2 separate regions of the Homo sapiens genome follow, and region 2 is linked to region 1. The links come from fine-mapping of genetic effects on gene expression. A gene starts in region 1. The other region holds a variant in brackets. All regions are shown on one strand. Distances are between the middles of the regions.

Region 1 (2,894 bases):
ACTGCACTTCAGCCTTGGCGACAGTTAAGACCCTGTCTCAAAAAAAAAAAAAAGCTTCTATCAATCTCAGTAATATCCTTACTTTGTAGTAAATCCGTCCTGATAATAAGGACAGGCTTTTCCAGGCTTCTCCTCTGGAATAAGACTCCAGCACTGGGCCAGGCGCCGTGGCTCACGCCTGTAATCCCAGCACTTTGGGAGGCTGAGACGGGCGGATCACGAGGTCAGGAGATCGAGACCATCCTGGCTAACACGGTGAAACCCCGTCTCTACTAAAAATACAAAAAATTAGCCGGGCGTGGTGGCGGGCGCCTGTAGTCACAGCTACTCGGGAGGCTGCGGCAGGAGAATGGCGTGAACCCGGGAGGCGGAGCTGGCAGTGAGCCGAGACCGCGCCACTGCACTCCAGCCTGGGCGACAGAACGAGACTCCGTCTCAAAAACAAAAGACTCCAGCACTCGGTTTCTAATCTGTCAGAGTTGTGCTGCAAGACCTTGCTGTCCGAGGAATGTTTTCCTTTTGGTATCGGACTCGAGGTCTCTTAGAAGATAAATGCGGCTCCCACTACTCAGGAGGGCCCACGGCGCTGATCTGGCGAACGGATCGTCCCCACTGGTGTGAATTCTGTCCCGCGCAACTTACACTTTTCTGAACACTGAGAGCGCCACTTCCACAAAGAACTTAAAAGCATGTGAGATTCTGGCGTCCGTCTTACTTTCATGACTGCGCGCGTGTGATTTATTTAGAGACAGGGTCTCGCTCTTGCCCGGGCTGCGGTGCAGTTGCAACCGCGACCTCCAGGATAGCGGGGCCCACAGGCGCCACCGCGCCCGCCTACAACGCGGTGCTCAACAAAGTTAACTTTAAAAGCTCCCCCAACTCCACGACTCAGGCCCTCCGAGATCACGGAGCTTCCACATCGAAGCAGGAGCACGCGGGAAACGACCCTGTTTAGAAAATGCCCGCGCCGCGGCCTCTGGCCCGGCCCAGCCACGCCGGCCGGTGATGGTCGCACCGGAGGCGCGCGACGCAGCGAGGCCGCCCCGGGAAGGGACGCGGCGGGGCCCCAAGCGAGGCCCTGGAGCGGCTCCGCACCCTGGCCCGCCACTCACCGGCCGCCGCCTCCATCCCGCCGCCTCCAGGAGCTCGCGGCTGCAGTCCGCTTACGCCCGCGGGCCGTCAGCCTCCCAGCTAGAGCGAAGGGCCTTCCAACCAATGGGCAGTGCGTGCCCGCCCGTGGCTCTTCTTGACAGGCCTAATCCTGCTGTCCCAGCCAATCAGCTTGCCGGAGGAGCTCTCGATCCGGTCCCGCAGGTTCCGGCGCAGACGATGACACGGACCTACTTTCCGGTCAACGCGGCCTGCGGTACCACCTCCCACCCGGGTCCAATGTGCGCGCGAGCTTTGTCTCCAACCGCTTGGGAACTGACCAATAGGAACGTTGGATTAGGACTGACAGTTCCTGAAACCTCTCGGCAATAGCTTTGTCACCCGACTCCCGCCCCCTCTCCCGAAGCTCCGAGACAGGTGTGCCCGCCCCTCGCCGCCGGAGCCAATGGGCGCAGGGGGCGGGGATTGTTTACGTCTCGCTCCGGGGCGGAAAGTGGGTCAGGGCCGGGCCGGCGGAGCGCGCAGCGGGGGCTGCAGGTGAGTGGCGGGGCACGGGCCGACGTCTCGGGCTCTGGGCGGGCGCGCTGACCTTGCGGGCGCGGCGGTAGCAGCGCGGCCAGGGCGCCGCCTTTGTTCCTCTCCGGAGGGCCGCGCCCGAGAGAGGCTTCCCCGGTGCCGCCGACTCCGGAACCCGCGCGCCCGCGGGAGGGAACAGCCAGGCCGGGCTGCCGCCGGGGAGGGCGGCTCCCGCTGCACACGCGCTCGCCTGGGGCTGGGCAGGGTTCGGCGGTCCGGGCGCCGCGATCCGCCCCGGCCTCCCTGGAACCCCACCCGGGGCCCAGCGGGCGTTGCCAGCCGCGAGCCCGGCGCAGGGGTCGGCCCTGGAAGGCTAGGCGGGAACCCCGGAGCTGGCGAGGGAGGTGCCAGGCAGGTGGCCTGGGAAGCGCAGACCTGGCCCTCGCAGCCTTTTGCATTTTATACCATAACAGCGGCCAGCGCTGAGCAGGTTTTAAGATTTGTGTTTCACGAGGAGCCCTGGCGGTAGCGAGCGGAGGGGAAGGCGAGCTGCGCGGCCCAGGAGACGGTGGCGGGAGGAGGATGCAGGCGGGTGCGGCGGTCGGGCCGGGCGTGAGGGGAAGGTGTCGGGGAGCGGTCACGGTGCTTCTGGCATGAGGAACTGGGAGGCCGGAGATGCCATTTGTCAAACCGGACGACAGAGGAGGAGCGAGTGGAGGTTTTAGATGCCTGCGGGACAGGCGGGCGGGGCAGCCAGGTTCGTGAGGTGGAACCGGAGAGAGGGGCTGGGATTCGCATTCCGGAGTCATGGGTGTCTGGGTGGCGTTTCACAGGATCTACCTGGGTTTTATTGAGCTGCTCAGATCCTGGAGTGAGGTACGGGCTCCTGAAGCGTTCTGGAGCCCTGGCTGGGCACCGGTGCGGCCCCTGCAGTCCCCACTTTGAGTGGGTCCGTGGCCCAGCCTGGAAGCTCAGGGCTGGGAGTGCTGTGAGTCTTCCTTTGCCCAGAGCCTGTGTTTTCTTCTAGATTCTTTCCACCATGGCCAGACGCCCCCGGAACAGCAGGGCCTGGCACTTCGTCCTGAGTGCAGCCCGCCGAGACGCAGATGCCCGGGCCGTGGCTCTAGCAGGCTCCACTAACTGGGGCTACGACTCTGATGGGCAGGTAGGTTCCAGCGGGCGAGGCGGACGTGGCTGGCCTAAGGTGTGGAGATGCCCTAGGCAGGCAGGCAGACATTACCTGAACACGGAATCAGTCGGAGAAAAAG
Region 2 (2,894 bases), 150 kb before region 1:
GCATTACTGCAAACATGTCTCACCTCCCACCATAGGGTGGTTTTTCTCCTATCTCAGAACTGAACAAATGTACAATTGGGTTTTATACCGAGACATTCAGTTCCCAGGGGCAGGCAGGAGACAGTGGCCTTCCTCTATCTCAACTACAAGAGGCTTTCCTCTTTGACTAATCCACCTCAGCACAGACCCTTTACAGGTGTCGGGCTCGGGGACGGTCAGGTCTTTCTCATACCACGAGGCCATATTTCAGACTATCACATGGGGAGAAACCTTGGACAATACCCTGCTTTCAAGGGCAGAGGTCCCTGCAGCTTTCCACAGTGCATTGTGCCCCTGGTTTATTGAGACTGGAGAATGGCAATGACTTTTACCAAGTATACTGCTTGTAAGCATTTTGTTAACAAGGCACGTCCTGCACAGCCCTACATCCCTTAAACCTTGATTTCATACAGCACATGTTTTTGTGAGCTCCAGATTGGATCAAAGTGGTTGGGTCAAAGTGGCTGGGGCAAAGCTACAAATTAACAACATCTCAGCAAAGCAATTATTTAAAGTACAGGTCTTTTTCAAATGGAGTCTCTTATGTCTTCCCTTTCTACATAGACACAGTAACAGTCTGATCTCTCTTTCTTTTCCCTACACCAGCTACTCGGGAGGCTGAGGCAGGAGAATCGCTTGAACCTGGGAGGCTCAGGCTCAGCCTGGGAGGCTGAGGCTCAGGGAGGTTGTGGTGAGCCGAGATGACACCATTGTACTCCAGCCTGGGCAACAAGAGCAAATCTCCGTCTCAGGAAAAAAAAAAAAAAAAAGATGTGGTAGGGAGGTGGGGGTGGGAGGGGGCAAGTGGGCTCAGGAGGTGGGGGGGGTGCCGGCAAGCAGACTGCTTGAGTGGGGAGACGGGTGAACCGCAGGACCCCAAGGCCCCCTCACATTGAGAGTCCAGGGAGGGATGGCTGTGGGCAAGGTCTGTATGCCAGGTCACCGGAGGAGGGGGTGGTGTTTCCAGCAATGGAGCGTCTGGTGTGGAATCAGTCACCTTACCCTCCCGCTCCTGCTGGGTGATACCCCATCCTTGCGGCTGCCCCCGCGTCTTCCTTGAGGAACAGCAGACTCTGAGGGGGCAGCCCCTTCCTCCCCAGGGCACGGCCTTGCCCCTCAAGGGTTGGGTTCAGGGGCAGCGGGCAGGCCTGGGCACGGCTGGGCCGTCACCTCGGGCGAGGGATGGGGAATAAAAAGGAACTCTGTCTGAGACACCGTGATCCCTCGCCGGGGCCCAGGCCTGGCTCAGAGCAGCCACCAGGAAGCGTCTGCGGCCCGTATGGGGGAACAGACCATACTTCAGACCCTTGCTCAACCACCGCTTTCCGCTCTCTCAGTGGCAGGTGCCGCGCAGAGCCTGGCCCTGGTGGGGCTGTGGCCCCTGGTGGGGGTGGGGGCCGTGGGCAGCTCCCGGGAGGCTCCTACCCGCGGACGGGTCGGCAGGTGGGAGGAGGGGGCGTCCGGTAGGGTCGGCGAAGGCGCCGAGGCCACGTGCAAGCCCCGGCCCTCGAGGCGGCCTCCCGGGCCCGGGCGCGGGACCGTGCGCAGGACTGACCAGCAGGGGGCACGCTCGCTC[G/C]GTGCTGCCAGGCCGGGTGGTCTGCGTGCGCAGGCGCGGCGGGGGGCCTGACGGCGCTGCAGTTCCCCGGGTGGCCGCGGGGGTTGCGGCGGAGGCAGCGAGCGTCCGCGCAGAGAAACCGCCTCGGCCACGCCCGCCCTTGGGCCGGTGCTGGGGACCCAGGCCGAGGCCTCTGGTCGTCTGAGGGTGCCAGGGGCAGCTGCAGGGGGTTTGCCGGGCTTCACGAAGTGACCGCTACAGGGAGTGCAGTCGCAGCCACGGGTGCCCCTTCCAGGGTCACCGGAGGACAGAGCCAGGGGCGGGGGCGGGGGTGGCGCGGCCGGTGGGAACGGCAGGCGTGGTTGGGGGCGCGGGTGGAGGCAGGACGCCCCCAGCCCCTTCTTCAGGGCAGCTGCGTGGGACCCAGGCTGCCCGGACCTGGCCCGCCCTCAGGGCTAGATCCTAGGGTTCCACATCCCAGGCCTCTTTCCTCCGCCCACCTCTCCCCGCTACAACCCAGGCAGCTCCTGGCTGCCTTCCCCCAACCAGAGTCCTCTCTGCAAAATAATAACCAGACCAGGTCCCTCCCTCAGAGGTTCCCACAGTCCTTGCCTGCTCTGACCTAGGCTGACCCCACCTCTCCAGCTTGATTTCCTACTCCATAAATGAGATCGGTGTTGTTTATCATAATTACAGTTTGGGGTTGTTTCTTTTTTTTTTTTTTTTTGAGACGGAGTCTGGCACTGCCGCCCAGGCTGGAGTGCAGTGGCGCGATCTCGGCTCACTGCAAGCTCCGCCTCCCGGGTTCACGCCATTCTCGTGCCTCAGCCTCCCGAGTAGCTGGGACTACAGGCGCCCACCACTGCGCCCGGCTAATTTTTTTGTATTTTTGGTAGAGCCGGGGTTTCACTGTGTTAGCCAGGATGGTCTCGATCTCCTGACCTCATGATCCGCCCAGCAGGGCCTCCCAAAGTGCTGGGATTACAGGCATGAGCTACCGCGCCGGGCCTGGTTGTTTCTTCTTGAGAAGGGGGTTTCTCTGTTGCCTGGGCTGGAGTGCAGTGGCATGACCATGGATCACTGCAGCCTTGAATTCCTGGACTCAAGCGATCCTCCCAGGTCAACCTCCCGAATAGCTAGGACTACAGGTGTGCTACTACGCCCCGCTAATTTTTGTATTTTTAGTAGAGACAGGGTTTTGCCATGTTGTCCAGGCTAGTCTGGAACGCCTGGGCTCAAGTGACACTCCCGCTTTGGTCTCCCAAAGTGCTGGGATTACAGGCATGAGCCACTGTGCCTG

The links. PIP is the estimated chance that this variant, and not a neighbour inherited with it, causes the effect.
Region 2: its variant is fine-mapped to the expression of NUBP2 in whole blood (TOPMed, PIP above 0.99).

The regions. Positions count from the first base shown.
Region 1 is chr16:1,781,255-1,784,148 of GRCh38, reverse strand. It overlaps NUBP2 (NUBP iron-sulfur cluster assembly factor 2, cytosolic), which reads right to left and starts at 1,189. Exons shown (of 7, transcript NM_012225.4): 1 at 1,113-1,189. The coding sequence starts at 1,128. It overlaps EME2 (essential meiotic structure-specific endonuclease subunit 2), which reads right to left. Exons shown (of 8, transcript NM_001257370.2): 8 at 2,447-2,894. It overlaps SPSB3 (splA/ryanodine receptor domain and SOCS box containing 3), which reads left to right and starts at 1,578. Exons shown (of 7, transcript NM_080861.4): 1 at 1,578-1,647; 2 at 2,654-2,791. The coding sequence starts at 2,666. RefSeq lists silencers at 247-473, 901-1,110, 1,611-1,970 and an enhancer at 1,251-1,400.
Region 2 is chr16:1,928,576-1,931,469 of GRCh38, reverse strand. No RefSeq gene overlaps it. Among named protein-coding and RNA genes, the nearest start is that of HS3ST6, 12 kb to the right of the region's middle. The variant G/C (reference allele first, on the strand shown) is at 1,616.